Homo sapiens: one gene and its partners. The protein of the gene in region 5 interacts with the protein of the main gene of each other region in a pairwise test. Each region holds a gene or a part of one and is shown on either strand. Other genes may lie near its edges.

What was found.
Region 1: the proteins of CAPN3 (region 5) and MMP2 interact in a two-hybrid assay, tested with the Homo sapiens proteins (one large-scale study listed by BioGRID and IntAct).
Region 2: the proteins of CAPN3 (region 5) and PREPL interact in a two-hybrid assay, tested with the Homo sapiens proteins (one large-scale study listed by BioGRID and IntAct).
Region 3: the proteins of CAPN3 (region 5) and C1QTNF9 interact in a two-hybrid assay, tested with the Homo sapiens proteins (one large-scale study listed by BioGRID and IntAct).
Region 4: the proteins of CAPN3 (region 5) and NECAB2 interact in a two-hybrid assay, tested with the Homo sapiens proteins (one large-scale study listed by BioGRID).

What each region holds. Positions count from the first base shown.
Region 1 is NC_000016.10:55,482,198-55,485,716, reverse strand, and holds part of MMP2 (72 kDa type IV collagenase isoform 1 preproprotein), read right to left. Parts: intron 2,809-3,519; coding exon 2,582-2,808; intron 1,702-2,581; coding exon 1,553-1,701; intron 419-1,552; coding exon 290-418; intron 114-289; coding exon 1-113.
Region 2 is NC_000002.12:44,354,992-44,358,510, reverse strand, and holds part of PREPL (prolyl endopeptidase-like), read left to right. Parts: intron 1-3,519. UniProt on the Homo sapiens protein: Serine peptidase whose precise substrate specificity remains unclear. Does not cleave peptides after a arginine or lysine residue. Regulates trans-Golgi network morphology and sorting by regulating the membrane binding of the AP-1 complex.
Region 3 is NC_000013.11:24,319,575-24,323,045, reverse strand, and holds the end of C1QTNF9 (complement C1q and tumor necrosis factor-related protein 9A precursor), read right to left. Parts: intron 2,051-3,471; coding exon 1,278-2,050; 3' UTR 515-1,277; downstream 1-514. UniProt on the Homo sapiens protein: Probable adipokine. Activates AMPK, AKT, and p44/42 MAPK signaling pathways.
Region 4 is NC_000016.10:83,978,244-83,981,762, forward strand, and holds part of NECAB2 (N-terminal EF-hand calcium-binding protein 2), read left to right. Parts: intron 1-200; coding exon 201-309; intron 310-2,595; coding exon 2,596-2,621; intron 2,622-2,786; coding exon 2,787-2,884; intron 2,885-3,519. UniProt on the Homo sapiens protein: May act as a signaling scaffold protein that senses intracellular calcium.
Region 5 is NC_000015.10:42,404,493-42,408,011, reverse strand, and holds part of CAPN3 (calpain-3), read right to left. Parts: intron 3,249-3,519; exon of another isoform or gene 3,057-3,248; intron 2,087-3,056; coding exon 2,069-2,086; intron 1-2,068. UniProt on the Homo sapiens protein: Calcium-regulated non-lysosomal thiol-protease. Proteolytically cleaves CTBP1 at 'His-409'. Mediates, with UTP25, the proteasome-independent degradation of p53/TP53.

The DNA of each region.
Region 1 (3,519 bases), on a different chromosome or scaffold from region 5:
GAGGAAGCCATCGCTGCGGCCGGTATCAGTGCAGCTGTTGTACTCCTTGCCATTGAACAAGAAGGGGAACTTGCAGTACTCCCCATCGGCGTTCCCATACTTCACACGGACCACTAAAGAGTGACATGGAAGGGGGAGGTTGGACTTCTCCAGGCCTTCTTTGGAGACCAAGATTCTGACTCACCCAGATGTGTGACTTTCCTCCCCTCCCACCTCTCTGGTCCAAGCAAATGGAGTGGAGAGAGGACAGGAGAGAAGGTCTGGGGCATGCAGAGGGCCCCTTTCTCACCTTGGCCTTCTCCCAAGGTCCATAGCTCATCGTCATCAAAATGGGAGTCTCCCCCAACACCAGTGCCTGGGGCGAAGGCATGAGCCAGGAGTCCGTCCTTACCGTCAAAGGGGTATCCATCGCCATGCTCTGAAACACACACTGGGTCTTAGCGTCTAGCTGTGCCACCTAGACCCTGAAACCCCTCCACACCCCATCTACATGTGGAGCCTGTCAGCCCACCCAGCATCTGTCCCCTTCCCTTGTCCCAGTGGGGTTATCCAGGACTGTCAACAGGAGCTCAGTAGAGATCTGCTGACCTGGTTGTTACCATCCTATGGTCTACACTGCTCTCCCAGGTTTACATGACTCCCAGTATCCATACCCTCTACCTCCATTGTCTACTCTACCACCATGACACTATATGTACCACATACCCACATTACCACACTAGTGTCCTCACCCCATCTTCATCATCCCCAGTGTCTATGCCATCCTCCATCCTGTCAATACTGCCCTCTTAACCACAATCCTGCCTTCATGTCACACTATCACCAATATCTGCAACATGAATCCTCATGCCCACCTTGTCACCAAGGCCTGTACCACCCACCCACTTGTCTACATTGTTTCCCCTGCTCTTTACCTTCATCACTTACCACTCAGTGTCTATACCACATACCTTTATGTCTGTGCTACTGGCAGTGTTCACACCATAAACTCACATGGCCACCTGGCCCCAGGTTCTACGACCCTTCCTCTAGTGTCTACACTGCTCCACTGTTTCCAAACCACTCTCATATATCTACAGTTCCTCAGTGTCTACCAGCATCATCCAACAGAGCTTTCTGTGATTAAGAGGAATATTCTTTGTCTGTGCTGTCCAAAATCAATAGTCACTAGCCTCCTGTGTCTTTTGAGCACTTAAAATGTGCCCAGTGTGACCAGGAAACTAATTTAAAATTTTTAACTAATTTAAATTTAAACAGCCATGTATATTCTGCCTAATGGCTGCCATATTGGACAGCACAGTAGACCACTTGCTTCGGGTTTAGACGGCCTCCAGGTTATACCACAACACACCATCTGCCCCCATGTCAACGTGGCTCTCCAGTGTCCACTCCGTGTTGTGCTGCCCCCATCTAAACCACCCCCAGGGCCCACACCATCTACTGTCCTATCTAAGCCGCCCTTAGGATCCCCACGCCCCTCTAATGTCCATCTCACCCCCTCGTCTCAACACTGATCCCTGCTGGCCCCTCTTCTGCCCCATCTTCTGCCTACCCCAGCGGCCAAAGTTGATCATGATGTCTGCCTCTCCATCATGGATTCGAGAAAACCGCAGTGGGGTCACATCGCTCCAGACTTGGAAGGCACGAGCAAAGGCATCATCCACTGTCTCTGGGTCCAGATCAGGTGTGTAGCCAATGATCCTGGAGGTGGTAGAACTGCATGTGAGTGTGTATGCATGTGCATAAGTGTATGTATATGCAAGTATGTGTGTGTGCACAGATGTATGAAAAAGTTTGAGTGTGTGTGTGTATGTGAACATACAAGTATATGCACAAGCACGGGAAGGGTGCACAGGTATGTGTATGTATATGTGAGCATGTGCCTGCGTGTATGTGTGTGTAGGCTGGGCAGGGCTCACTGCCAAGGACAACCCTCCCAGAATGCCTTGAAGACCCAGGGAGTCCCAGGCCAGCCAACATTTTTAGGCCCCAGCTCAGGAGTTCCATCTGTCACTTCTGGCTGGTGGGGGAGGGCCATAAGTAGTGCATTATGGGGCACAGGGCAAAGATCCCACCATTGGAACCCAGCACCACCCATACAGAGCACAGCTCTTGGCCCAATTAGCAACCAGTTATAACCCAATTGGGCTGCTAAACCCAATTAGCTACCAATCATCACGTTCCTTCTGCCCATCCCAATGACCTCATCTAAAAACAATAACAATGACTAGCATTACTACACTCTTGCTCTGTGTCAAAAATCATAGAAGCCGTTTGTATTAGTTCAGCCTAGCTTAGTTCCCCAACATACCATATAAGGGCATTTTTTAAGCCCCATTTTGTAGATTGGAAAGCCAACATTCACAGCACTGAAAAGTAACCCAATGTCTCATGGCCAGCAAGTATGAAACTCAAGTCTGTCTGACTTCATTTTCTAAGAACTGTGTATTGAAACTCCCTAAGATGTCAAGCCTTCACAAAAGACACCTCATGGATCCCCTGAGTGGAGAGAATGCATGGGTCAAGGAGACTCGTGTCCCTCAGCCCCATGGCCCTGCCTCCCCAAGCCCTGCCCCGGCACCTGTATGTGATCTGGTTCTTGTCCCACTTGGGCTTGCGAGGGAAGAAGTTGTAGTTGGCCACATCTGGGTTGCCGCAGCGTGGCTTCCGCATGGTCTCGATGGTATTCTGGTCAAGATCACCTGTCTGGGGCAGTCCAAAGAACTTCTGCATCTTCTTTAGTGTGTCCTTCAGCACAAACAGGTTGCAGCTCTCCTTGGGGCAGCCATAGAAGGTGTTCAGGTATTGCTGAAAGAAATGCACACCCCCAAGGCAATTAGCCACATTAGGATGGCACAGTACTGACCAAAGCAGGCTGTAGCAATCAGCCCCCCAACCCAGTGCCATAGTCCAGACAGGAAATAAGCCAGGGGTCCCAGAGCACTGGGTGGAGTACTGGGTTCCCAAACCAGCACGGTCACCCATTAGTTGAGCGACAGGACATACAGCTATAGAGAGCATGGCTACCACTTGTTGGTGCTGGGTGCTGACTATATGTCCAGGCACTAAAGTCAGAATATGTTAACTCATTTAATGCTCAAAACTCTGTAATGTAGATATACTAACCCTATTATACAGAGGAGGAAACTGAAGCACAGAGAGGTTAAGAAACTTGCTTACGATCACACAGTTCACAAATGGTAGATCTGGATTTGGGACAAAGCAATCTGGCTCCAGAGGCTGTGATATGGAATCATTATACTCCAGCATCCTTCCTTTACCTCTATCAACTCATTTATCTACCTTGCGGCTGGTGACTTGGGGACTTTTTTCCTCCTGTTTTCTTCTAAAGAGATTCAAGGACTATGTGCATGGGCTCTGGCAGTAGACAGACCTGGGTTTAAATCCTGAATCAGCCATTTGCAAAAAGAAAGTAGTCCTGTCCTTCATGAGTCATACAACTGGCCCTGCCCAAACTGAGGCCCAAACTGAGCAGGTCCCTGCAGAGGTTCAGGGAGC
Region 2 (3,519 bases), on a different chromosome or scaffold from region 5:
TCCCTCTCCTACCTTTTACTTCTTATGTTCCTTAGGTTCCTTAATGATATTTGGGGGTGGTATTCTTGCAATAGTTTCACAAATTTATGATTTTAATATTTTTTTTATTTTAATTTCTGGTTTTGTCGCATACTGATTTTTCTTTTAGTCTGTTTTGGCTTCCTCCTTTCTTCGGGTAAAATATATGTATAACAAAGTTTTCCACTTGATCCATTTTAAAGTATGCAATTCAGTGGCTTTCAAAGTTCATCTGTGTTGTATGCATGTATCATAACTTCATTTCTTTTTATAGTTGAATAATATTCCTTTGTATGTATAAACCACATTTTGTTTATCCATTCCTGTAATTGATGGACACTTGGGCAGATTCTTCTCATTTTAGAAACTATCTTTTCAATCTAATTTTTCTCAGTTTTTCTAGTTTTTGTTCAATTTTTGCCGCTATCTTAGCTGATACCTATTTAGGTGTTGTGTGTGTCTCTTTTGCTTTTAACATTTTATATGTTAGCCCCCTAGTCTTCCTAGACTTTTACTGTTTATGTTTTAGTCTTTGAAATTCTTTTCCTTTTTGTAGTGTCTTGCCTTAGTTTAGTACTTTCTTTACTCATTTAGAAATTCTTTATAACTTCTTTTTATTTCATTTTTGTGTTTTTTGTACATCTTTCCTACTTCAGAAAGATAAAATTTTTAATTTCACCTATTGAACTAAATTTTGGACCTTTAGGTTATTTTATTTTGCATTGTGTTTAGAACATTTTGTCATGTCGTACTTTGTCTTAACACTTAGTTTATAAATAGTAGACAGGAATTACCATCAGAGTAACAGCTGTGATATTAGCTCACATTCTAAACAGAAGGTTGACTATTTCTTCCCTCCATTTGTTCCTGAAGCAACTTTTCCGTTCTCTTTTATAGATTCCCACTACCTGGAAACTTTAACCTGACTCAATAACTCCAAGTATTAATAGTTCATTTAGTAATTCCTTTACCTGATAAAGTAATCCTGCTGTCACATGTCATGTATCAACCATTCCCTCTATGAGAAATGATGTAATGTAAAAGCCATGGTCTTTATCACTGAGACCTGGGGAAGCTTTATAAAGATGCCCCGGCAGCTGTGAAAACACCTGTAGAGAAGAATGCACATTTCCTTCTTTCAGCAAGCATCCACTGATTTCCAACTCTGTCCACTTTTATAGGGTGTAATAAAGTAGAAAAAGTAGTTACTGCTTTTAGGTAAATTAAAATGTCTGCTTAAAGAGCTATTACCTATATAAGTTAACTAAGGAACAGAAAAGTAGCATGTGTAGTGGGAATGTTAGAAGGCAAAAGATCCAGCCACGATTGGTGTGACTGAACTAATCAGGACTCCTAATTTTCCTGACTGAAAAAAATAGGGAGTTCTGATCAGGCATACTGGCTCACGCCAGTAATCCCAGAACATTGGGAGGCCAAGGCGAGCAGATTGTCCGAGCTCAGGAATTCGAGACCAGCCTTGGCAACATGGCAAAACCCCAACTCTACCAAAAAGACTAAAAATTAGCTGGGTATGGTGGCGCACGCCTGTAATCCCAGCTGCTTGGAAGGCTGATGTGGGATGATTGATTCAGCCTGGGAGGTCGAGGCTGCAGTGAGGTTGAGGCACAGTGAGATCTTCAGCCTGGGTGACAGAAGGATACCCTGTCTCAAAAAAAAAAAAATAGGGAGTTTCAACTTGTCATTCTGTAGAAAGTCTTAGAGGTGCTAAAATTTCATGATTCTATACCTCTTGTTACCTTAGCAACAAATTACTGCCTAAAAGTTTGGGGACTCTTCAGTATCAACTTCTGCAGTCTAACTGTATATCAGAAATCCTGGAGAGCTTTTTAGAAATGCGGATTCCTGGATCTCACCCCACATCTGCGTAATGAAAATCTCTATGGTTGAGGCCTACACATCTGTTGTTTGTTTGTTTGTTTGTTTGTTTGAGACGGAGTCTTGCTTTGTTGCCCAGGCCGGAGTGCAATGGCATGATCTTGGCTCACTGCAACCTCCACCTCCCAGATTCAGGCAATTCTCCTGCCTCAGCTGCCAAGTAGCTGGGATTACAGGCGTCCACCACCATGCCCAGCTAAATTTTTTTGTATTTTTTAGTAGAGACAGGGTTTCACCACGTTGGTCAGGCTGGTCTCGAACTCCTGACTTCAGGTGATCCACCTGCCTCGGCCTCCCAAAGTGCTGGGATTACAGGAGTGAGCCACCATGCCCGGCCCCAGATCTGTTTTTTGAAGTTCACATCAGGTAATTCTGGAACTCACAACTTGACTGACACTGGACCTGAATTTAGAAATTGGAAATGTTTGATGATCAAGTGTTGCCGATCTAAACCTTATTGAATTCATTCAGTTCTGCAGTTCTTATTGGCAAGTACCTCTGCTTTCCATTTTACATTAGCCAGATGGCAAGATGAACTTACTCTATTATACTTACAAGCCAGCCAGTGATATTCAAAGACTAGCATCCATCCATCCAGATATCACATTTCTTTATCTTCCACATCATCCTGCTCTGCTCTGCCTAAAAAATAATTCCCAAAATCTTTAATAGTGATAATTTGAACAAGATACAAAATGAAATTGTATAATTAAAGAGAGAAGACTAAATCCTTTGGTTAAACATGTCATTTGCCTATTTCTACAATACAGGTTAGCAGCTCCTGCAATAGTCTCATATTCATATGTGTGTGTGTGTGTATATATATATATATATATATATATATAATATGTAGTTTTGTATATCTTGCAAAAAGTTTGAGCTACATCCTTTTAAGCAATAGAATGTTATTGAAAAATGTAGGCGCAATCAGATTTGCATTTTAGAAGAATCACTCTGACAGAATAGAGAATAAATTGGAAGTAGGAAGCCTTGTCAGTAACTCAGATGAGTGAAGATGAGAGTCTTTACAGGGTGATTGCTTTTTTTTGAGACAGTGTCTCACTCTGTCACCCAGTCTGTAGTGCAGTGGCACAGTCTCTGCTCACTGCAACCTCCACCTCCCAGGCTCAAGTGATTCTCGTGCCTTAGCCTCCTGAGTAACTGGAATTACAGGCATGTGCCACCACACCCAGCTAATTTTTTTATATTTTAAGTAGAGACAGGGTTTCGCCATGTTGGCTAGGCTGGTCTGGAAGCCCAGCCTCAAGCAATCCACCTGCCTTGCCCTCTCAAAGTGCTGGGATTACAGGCATGAGCCACCGCAGCTGGCCCTGATTACATTTTATTTGAGACATCTTAATGGAAGACTAGAGAGCTTGAGTGATAATTCCTCATCTCTTTGGATTCTAAAATCCAAAAGCCTGTTAGAAAACAAATGATTTTTTTTAACTGATTGGAGGCTGTTGAGAATGGGCAAAACCTGACCTAAACTGACACAAAGCTATTATGATCTTTATCCCAATTAGTAGATGTTTAGCTCTAAAATGTTACTGCATTTGATTAGAGTGTTGTTCCCCTGTAAACTGAGATAAGGTACCCAGTTAA
Region 3 (3,471 bases), on a different chromosome or scaffold from region 5:
TGGCTCATTTCCCTCTGGACTCCATGGTGGGCGGGGTGTATGGGACAGGCAGGTGGCTGCACCAGAGGGGCTCAGGAAAGCTCGACGCGGAAAGTGTTAAGACTTTTGGAAATGTTGAGATGGGGCGAAAATGTATTTTGCACAGGTGAAGGAAATCAACTTTGGGAATCAGAGGGCAGATTGTTTTGTGTTGAACTGTGTCTCCCAAAAGAGATGCTGAAGTCCTAACCTGTACATGTGACCTTATTTGAAAATAAGGAGCTGCAGATATGATTAAGATGGGTCATAGTAGATTAGGGAAGCTGTCCTTGTAAGAAGAGGAAAATTTGGCTGATACAGAAGGAGGACAGCCACCTGAAGATGGAGGCGGGGACTGGAGTGATGCTGCCACCAGCTGCCAGAAGCTGGAAGCAGCAAGGCTGCATCCTCCTGTATCCCCTTTGGAGGGAGAATGGCCCTGCTGCTACGGTGATCTCAAACTTCCAGCCTACAGAACTGTGAGAAAGTCCATTTCTGTTGTTTAAAGACTCCCAGTTTGTGTACTTTATTAGAGCAGTCCTAGAAAACACATAGAGATTCAAGTCTGGCAAATAATGATCGAACAATGATTTGTTGGGTAAAATGGTGATTAAAACCTAGGTTAGAAAATGAGCAAAGTGGGAGGGAGAGCACCAGGACAAATAGCTAATGCATGCAGGGCTTAATACCTAGGTGATGGGTTGATAGATACAGCAAACCACCACAGCACATGTTTACCTATGTAACAAACATGCATGTTTTGCATATGTATCCCAGAACTTAAAATAAAATAAAATTTTTTTAAAAGACAAAATGAGCAGTGTCTACAGCTTTCTGGAGTATGACAGCATCACCAGCTTAAAGCTGTTGCTAGTACTAAATTGAATAAACATTTCCCTCTAATTTCCCCTTAATGTCCTCAGAAACACAGATGAGGGATACATCTTCATATGACTCCTCAGAGCACTAAAATGATATTAAAACACTCTTCCCACAAGAAACGCACAGACGAGGGATTCTTCAGATAATAGGAATAAGAAATGTGAAATAAATTAGAATAAACCATGCAGCTATTTTAAATATTTACTCCTGGAAAAATAGTAAGTTACACAGAATCAGTTTTGGGAATAACTTTTCCATTTTCACCTTTTTATGATTATTGTAATAATTGGAGGAATTAATAAAGTAAAACCATCTGAATAAGTTCATCCCAAGCTGATTCTGATGGATGGTGTGGCGGATTTTTAAACTCTCCTCTGTCACGGGCTGCTGAACAGAAGGAACCCTGTGAAAGTTGTGTCATCGTCCTCATCAGCAAACAAGCCATTGAACCTCTCTCCTCCTGTCACCTGCAGCCACACCTCATCCCCGAGCTTCAGCTGCAGGACAATGCCGCCAGAGGCCTGGTCCTCAGAGCTCATGTAAGCATCTTTGGTGTGCAGTATTTTTACTCCATTTTTGACCAAAGACACCTGAACATTTCTGGAGAAAACAGTGATGTGGTAGGTGAAGTAATAGACCCCAGCAATGTGGCACGTGAATTTCCCCGCTGCTGTATCATAATGGTTGAATTCGTTATACAGGATCTTATCAAATTTAATGGGCATATCTGAAGAAGGAAACTTGCTCAGCACCGTGAGCCCCACAGTGAAAGCACTTTTTGGCAAGACTAGAGTCTCACCGATTTTCCCTTTCTCTCCTCGATCTCCTTTCCAGCCTCTTATTCCCCGGACTCCTGGCTCACCCTGGGGCCCCGTGGGTCCAGCTTCTCCTTTGGGACCAGGCTTTCCAATAGGGCCCATGGGGCCCGGTAAACCAGTTGGGCCCAAAGGCCCAATGTTGCCCCTTGGCCCCTCAGGACCAGTGGGACCCACGTCACCCTTATTCCCCTTCTGCCCCTGAGGCCCAGTCTCTCCTCGGAGGCCCTTCTCTCCCATGGGCCCTGCAAGCCCCTTGGGGCCATGTTTTCCTGGGGATCCTCTTGAGCCTTGATCACCTTTGATGCCTTTTGCTTCAACTTTTCCATCTGCTCCTAAATAGAGAAAGAGCAAATAAAGAGATAGCTTGTGAAAGATTCCCTTGTGAACAACTTTGGTTTTTCTATAATTGAGCTCACAAATGAAACAAAGTAGTGCACAGGTTCAGTATATGCCCAGAGTTTAAAATTCAATTACTCCATCTGGGTGCAGTGGCTCACACCTGTAATCCTAGCACCTTGGGAGACCGCGGCAGGAGGACTGCCTGAGGCCAAGAGTTCAAGACCAACCTGGCCAACATAGCAATACCCTGACTCTAAAAAAAAAAAAGAAAAAGAAAAATAAGAAAATAAAATTCAATTACTCCAGCCCAGCTCAGTGGCTCATGCCTGTAATCCTAGCACTTTGGGAGGCCAAGGTGGGCAGACTACTTGAGTCCAGGAATTCAAGATCAGCCTAGGCAACATGGCCAAACCTTATCTCTGCAAAAAATACAAAAATTAGCCAGGCGCGGTGGTGCACAACTGTAGTTCCAGATACTCAGGAGGCTGAGGTGGGAGGATGGCTTGAGCCCAGGAGGCTGAGGCTGCAGTGATCCGTGATCAAACCACTGCACTGCAGCCTGGGCAACAGAGTGAGATTCTGTCTCAAAAAAAATAAAAATAAATGAAAATCAATTACTCCAATTACACACGTGTGTGCACATGGACACACACACATCCCAACACACCTTTTGACTACCGTCTACTAAATTAGTGTCAGGGCTCACGTTAGAAATTACAACCCTACCATCTAAGTCTACCATGCTGGCCATTAAATAATGTCAATCCATGACAGAAAGCACTCTTCAGAGCAGAGACAGGTAGATTAACTGACACTCAACCCTAGTCGTGACATCCTCTAAAAACCTCCTCCCTGGAGTGAACATAAAATAAAGCCTGCATCGAGGCATTGCCCTCTCCTGCCCAACCCCAGCCCCAACCCACCTATCCCACCGGCAATTCATCATCTACAGAAACCTTGCTGCTTCCTTGCACCCCCACCCATACCAAAGAGCCGTGGTTGCAAGTGTGGACTCTGAGGTTAAATGCCAGGTTTCCATTCTGTCCCCATATGCACACAGGACGTCAGATGAGCTAGTGAGCCTCGTGCCTCTGTTCCCTCACATATGGAACTAGGGTAATAAAACTACCTAGCGTCTGGGGATATTGCATTCAGTGAGTCAGTACATGAAAAGCACAAAGTGAAGATTACACAAGTTTGCCACTACGACTACATCCCGACCCATCAGGGACCAGTTCTAGTTCCACCTCCTCCATGCAGTGCTGCCAGATGCACCAAGTCAAAAACTCAGTCTCACTCCTCAGTGCTCATCCACTGCAAGGTTCAAGGTTCAACAAACTACAGCCACAGGCCAAATTCAGCCTCCCTCCCGCAAGCTAAACAAATATGGTTTACATGTTTTTTTGTTTTTCTG
Region 4 (3,519 bases), on a different chromosome or scaffold from region 5:
GAATTAGCTGGGTGGGTAGGGATTATCTAAAATGGAATTTGTCTTTTAGTTTGGGGATTAGCTGGGAGGGTAGGGATTATCTGAGCTGCAGTTGTTCTGTCAGTCAGGCCATTGACTGGATTTGGGGGCCGTGCATGCACTAGCCCCACCAGCCTTATCTCTGCAGACACCAGCTCCTTTCTCTGCTTCCTTCCTTGCAGATGATGGGAAGCTGTCCTTGGAGGAATTCCAGCTCTTCTTTGCAGATGGCGTCCTTAATGAGAAAGAACTGGAGGATCTCTTTCACACGATTGACTCTGACAACACCAAGTGAGCTTCAGTCCTGGCTGGCAGAGTGGGGGTGTGTGTGGGCTGTGGTGGAGGCATCTTTTCATCTAGTGTCCGTTCCTAGTCCCCTGTAAGGGGCAGGAGAACTGAAAATCCCCAAATTTGCTAATCCAGAAGTCAGCTCTTCACTGCCTGGGGTGAATGGGGCGTGTGCAGATTCATATTGCATTGGCTACTATCGCAAGTGTGTCTTCTGAGTGCACATGGCCAACTAAGGAGAGACTCCTGGTTTTGCACAGTGGACATGGGATTATGAAAATGGGAAGGTGGCAATGACTTCATCCTTCTGCCATCTTCAGCCAGCAGCCAGTTCTCACCCCAACCCCAATGCCTGTGTGTCCTCCCAGTCCCAACATTAACTGTGAGGTTGAACGTCATCCTAACACTGACTCCTGTGTTAAACCAAACACGAATCCTAACTCAACACTACGTCTATCATTATAGCTTATTAAACCTTTTCTCCAACCCAGTCATAACCCTGACCTGCATCTCAGAATCAGCCAAAAACTCTGTCTCCACCCATCTCTAAATCAAGTGGAAAATGCAGATTCTACTCAGACTTACCCTTGACCCTTCCCAGCCTCACCTCCAATCTTGCCCTTTTCTTGGGATTCCCCAGACAGGATGAGGTCTGAGCCCTCTCCTCAACCCCACCTTCAGGAGGGATCAGAGCCCCACCTGGTCTCCTTTCTCAGGCCTACTCGCGTGATGAGGACCCAAGCTTCTGGAGGGCTGCTTAGGGCACATTTGGTAAGCGGAGGTTCTCTGAGACTGACTAGAGATGGTCTGGACAAGGAGCTACCACCAAACCAGTGTGCAAGGGGTAGAGTACAGTGGTGGTTTGGACCAGAGGCTGCGGCTGAGAGAGTCCTGGGGGGCACTGGCTGGGGACCGGGATATGGTAAGTGGAGCAGATACCATCCTCTGGGAAAGGCCACTTTAAAGAAATGGCTTCAGGCTCCAGACTGCAGAATGGAGAACTGTCTGGGGCCAGATGGAGATTTCTGAGCTGTTACTGCAGCTTCCTGGGGTGCTTTGAAGGGGCCAGGCAGGTGCCCATTGATTTAGACCTTCTCTTTCAGGGCCTTTTGTGTTAGGACCAGCGGGGTAGAGGAGGGGGTGGAGGCGGAGGGAGGAGGAGGCACTGGTTTGAGAGTCGAACTGTGAGAGTACGTGTGGGTGGGTGGGGGTGCAGGGAGGACTCGCGGTTATGGAAGGTCAAAGCTCTATAAAGACTTTTAGGATTAATCTCCCCAACATTACCTAAGGTGTGAGCCACGAACATTAGCCCCTTGGGATGCTAAATAGACTTTGTGCCCAAAACAGTGTACAAACCATCAAAAAGTTTTGTGAAACATGAATTAAAGCAGAATGACAGGGTCGCTTTCTGCAGGACTTGCCAGAACTCTGAATATGAGATGGAGGTTGGAGGCACCTCCTGACAGAGCATGCAGAGCCCCCGAGTGCAGATTCACTGGGCCACAGAAGCCTTCTGTCCAGATGTGCTTTGCTGAGCCTGGGCTCCACTGAGCACGATGAGGGACCTAGGCCCAGAAAGGGCCACCACCGTATTGGGTCCCTTGCACATTGACTTGGCAGTAGCTCCTTATCCAGACCATCTCTAGCCAGTCCCAGAGGGCCTCAGCTTATCAAATCTGCTCCTAAGCTGCAGAACCACCATAGTTCCCAGCACTGCACCCCTTATCTTGGGGCCGGTCTGTGCTCCTTCACTGCCATGGGGGATAGGCTCATGCTCAGCCTGCTCCCCCAAGAAAGGACAGGACCCTTCTCCAGGCTGTAGGAATGGGGATATGGGACCCAGGGGCTGCGACCAGAACAGGAAGGGCTCTGCCACAACCCCAGGAACTCCAGGACCCAGCAGGCAGGGTCGACTGGGGGTGGGTCAGTGGGTCAGATGAGAGCTTTGCTGACAGCCCGTCACAGTAATGGGTCCCCACTCTCTGTCCCTTTACCCCTTTCCTGGCCCCCAGCTTGGCCCTCCCCTTGGTGTCATTTATTCATGATGGGGTCAGCAGACTCCGAGAAAACAGAACAAGGGTGGGTGGTGTGGGGGATCAGACAGACGTGGGCCTTCAGGGGCGGGGGTGTCACCTACCTGCTGCACCCTCTTCTGTAAGGCGGAGCTTGTGGGGCCAGCACACAGGCTGCAAAGAGCAGGCAGGATGTGTGTTTCGCAGGCTGTGCAGGGTCAGGCCTGCTAACCCCCTCTCTGTCTCTGTCTGTCTCTGCCTCTGTCTGTCTCTGCAGCCATGTGGACACCAAGGAGCTGTGTGGTAGGTGCCTGGCTATGCTGGGACCAAGATGGGGATGCTGGGATGGGGCTGGATGAGAAGGGCCTGAGGCAGGGGAGGCTGGAGGTAGCGCAGGTGGGAGGTGCAGGAGTGCTGAGTGGGAGGGGCAGGACCTGTGACCCCTGACCTTTGCCTTTCCTTCCCCAGATTACTTTGTGGACCACATGGGTGACTATGAGGATGTCCTGGCCTCCCTGGAGACCTTGAATCACTCTGTCCTGAAGGCCATGGGTTATACCAAGAAGGTCAGTGGGTGTAGGTGGCCCCCGGGGTCCAGGGCTCCAGTGCTGCTTCAGTTCCACCCTTGCCTAAGGATGCCTGGATTTTTGAAGACAGGCCGCCAGGGAGGCCTATCTCAGGGGTGGGCTTTGCCTGGGCCTCTTTGAAGCAGCTGAGATGAACTGGGAAGGGAATAGAATGGTTTGGTGAATGGCTCTGGTTGGGAGCAGGAGGCATTTTCCCGGAATCAGGCCTGATCCTGGGCTGGGGCCTTAGAAAGGGTGGCCGCAATCACCCTGTGCCCTTAAGGGGTCCCCAGACAGGTGTCGTACCCTTCAGGGTGGGCTTACAAGACTGGAAGAGGGGGCGGGGTGGGGCGTGGTGGGGGGTGGTGGTTCATGCATCTGAACCCTGTCCCATATCAGGTTCTCGATGCTCAGCACCTGGTTTAATCCTCACAGCAACCCTATGGGTGGTTGCTGTCACCTCCACTATCTCACAGCTATGGAAACAGAGGCTCACAAAGGTGAACTCAACAGAGTCACAGCCAGACAGCCATAGCTGCTGGCTGGGATGAGTGGGGAAACTGAGTCAGGGACCTGGCAATAGGCATGGGAGTGTAGCATGAGACTCCAGGCACACCCAGGAGGCAACTGGAGAG
Region 5 (3,519 bases):
TCCATCCCTCCTCATGGTAGAGTATTGAGAGCTCAGCACGTGAAATGCTAAGAATGCTAAAAGCAGCATGATCTAGTGCAGTGATTGTCAAGTATTTTGTAGACTTTTTTTTTTCCAGATGGAAACACTGTTCAAATTAAATTTCCTGCAGAAACATGGTGTATATAAAAACACAAGCTTCTCTGATTAATGAGAACAGAGCTCTTTGCCCTCAGCACCCCACATCACCATGGCAGCTACTGAGGCACCTCAAAGGAACCTCTACAACCCTGCAAAGTATAGATTGAAAAAGGACACGGATTAGTGGCATGGTCAGTGGGTGAGCCATCAGAACACTGGGCTGGAATCCCAGCCCTGCCCCTCATATAAGAAATATCCTCTCTGGCCGGGCACGGTGGCTCACGCCTGTAATCCCAGCACTTTAGGAGGCCGAAGCAGGCAGATCACAAGGTCAGGAGATCAAGACCATCCTGGCTAACTGGGTGAAACCCCATCTCTACTAAAGATACAAAAAAATTAGCTGGGTGTGGTGGTGGGTGCCTGTAGTCCCAGCTACTTGGGAGGCTGAGGCAGGAAAATGGTGTGAACATGGGAGGTGGAGCTTGCAGTGAGCCAAGATCAAGCCACTGCACTCCAGGCTGGGTGACAGAGTGAGACTGTCTCAAAAAAAACCAAAAATATCCTCTCTGGCCTCAGTTTACTCATCCTTTAATGGTAAAATCTGCTTTCCCTCCTCATAGGGCTCTTGTGGGGATCAAATGAGATACTGAATGCAAAATCATACTGCAAAAACATTTAAGATGCTACACAAACAAGGGATATTTTCAAGACATGCTCGTGCAAGTGACAAGGATATGAAAAGGACGGAGAGCGGCTGCTGCATGGTGCCAACACTGTGGATGCGGTGCACCTGTAGGGAAAGCCGGGGGAAGGCAAGGCTGTGGGGATTGAGGCTGCAATGCAGAGAACAACTGGGCAGGCAGAGCCTCTCGGAGCAGAAAAGCAGCCCGCCTGGACTCATGCACCACTGCCCTTCCATGCTGCTCATCTAGGACAGCTCAAGCAGATAGACCCGTGGAAACGGCTCCCCAGCTTTGGCTCCCAGCAGGCCCCAGAGGCCTTGGCTTGCTCTGCCTTCTAAGCAGTGTCTTGCTCAAGCAGCTGAAGCTTGTGGGGATCCCAGAGCAAATGGAGGTCACAGTCTGAGGGGGGATGTGTAGGATGGATATGGTGTGGCCATGGAGCATCCCTGCCAGGCACACACTGGCAGGCCCGAGTGTGGGTCTGGACAACACAGGCCTTGAAGTGTAGGGGGCTGGCATCAGAGAAAGAGGGCAAGAAACACAGGTTTTGGAGTAAACAGACATGGTTTCCAGTTCCATTTTCCCCACTCATTAGTTCTGTTCCTTGGGCAAGTTCACTTCTTTGAGTCTATCTCACCTGTGAAAGGGGAAAAATAACAGCACCTACTTTGTAGATACTGTTATAATTGGGGGGGAAAAAAAAGAGAGGGACTGACCCCAAGCACAGTGCCTGGAATGTGGTAGTGCCTGAGGAGTGTCAGCTCTGGTCTGGGCCAGCACCAGTACCTGGAGGACCCCTGTGATGGATCCATCACCACCAGGCACCACCAGAAATGCTAGCACCAAATCTGATGGTGTATGATGGCCTCTTGTGGTTCAGGACACGGACTCTGGACCCAGACTGCCTGGCTCTAAGTACTGGCTCTGCCCCTCTCTGGCTGTGTGGCCTTGGGCAAGTTAGTCAAGTCTGTACCTTTTCTCCCTCTGAAAATGGGGATAGTTATAGTACTAATCTCATAGGGCTGTTGTGAGGAAGGAATTAATCATGGAAAGCACCTAAAAGAGTGCTTGGCACGTAGCCTTCCCCCAGCAAATCGTAGTTGTCATTACTGCACGCTCGGCCCCAGCAGAAGCTCAGGAAGGAGGGGGAGGAAGAGGCAAGTCTGGTGCATGGATGCATATGAGCTCACACATGCACACTTCACATGCATGCACATACATATGCATGAGTACACACACTTCATGCTCTCTACCCACACACCTACCTTGGTTTTTTTCTTTTTCTGCATAAGAAAAGGAAACAGTAAATGCAGAATAAGTGAAAAGTAAGTTCTCAGAACCGCCAGTGGCTTTTGGCTTCCCTGTATCCTGGTCTTTAGCTTGGGGTGGGGCTCCAGGGTCCAGAAATCTGAATCACATGGAGCCAAAAAGGGGCATGGAGGGTGAAGGGAGAAGAGAATTCTTCTTTCTCCTCCATGCCCAGACACCAGTGACTGCTCTGACTTTGTTTTTATAATCTACTCTTACTGCATATGGCAAGGAAAAAGATCTTCTGGCTAAGGTTTTCTTTCTTCCTTTTTTAAAAAATGAAATTGGTGGCCGGGCGTGCTGGCTCATGCCTGTAATCCCAGCACTTTGGGAGGCTGAGGTGGGCGGATTATCTGAGGTCAGTAGTTCAGGACTATCCTGGCCAACATGGTGAAACCCCATCTCGACTAAAAAATACAAAAATTATCCAGGCGTGATGGTGGGCACCTGTAATCTCAGCTACTCAGGAGGCTGAGGCAGGAGAATTGCTTGAACCCGGGAGGCGGAGGTTGCAGTGAGCTGAGATCATGCCATTGCACTCCAGCCTGGGTGACAAGAGTGAAACTCCGTCTCAAAAATAAACAAATAAATAAATAATAAAAAAATGAAATTGGTTACTAAAACACCAAAAACATGGCTCTCTCAAACTGACCTAACAATGGATTTTGACTTACAGAATATTTTTTAAAAATTTTTGAGCAAGCATTTAACATAGGGAGATTTTCTTTGGTAAAAGCCCCAGCTGTGGCAGGCTGCCCTGGGCCTGTAATCCCTGCGGCAACTATCAGCTGAGCCAAGGGCCCTGCTCCCTGTGTCTTCCAGATTGCCCCACGCCCCAACATTCCTGTTGACCCTCGACACTGGAGCGAAATGTCAATTGAGAACTGCAGACAACTGTGTCAGTGCAGGGACATCAAAACCCCTGCACCTGCCTGCTCTACTCACGTGACGTGCCAGCTCCCATAAGCTTTTGGGTTTGCAGGTCCTGATCAATACTGCACACCGATGACCAGCATCCAGATGACCAGAACAGATCCCCACACACCTACCACTAAAACCAATCGCCTGTGGTCATTCAGAAGGCACTTGGAGACCTGGCACTGGCTCAGGGTCAGGATTATGACCATGACTGTCACTGCCCAGAAGACAGTTCAGAGGGGCATTTGTCCTCCCATTGGCCTACGTCATCCCCACAGAGCACAAAGGACTGTCAGCTGACTACAGCCCAAAGCCCCAAGGCAGTCACAAGACTCCTCAACACACAGAGCCCAACACACAGCACTCTGTGCTTCGGACTTTGGGCTTCTCACTGCCTGGGGCTGGCCTCAGCGTGGAGGTGCGGAAAAACCTAAGTCTGGAGTCAGAGAGTCTGAATGTGAGTTCCAACCCTGCCACTTACTGAGCTCTG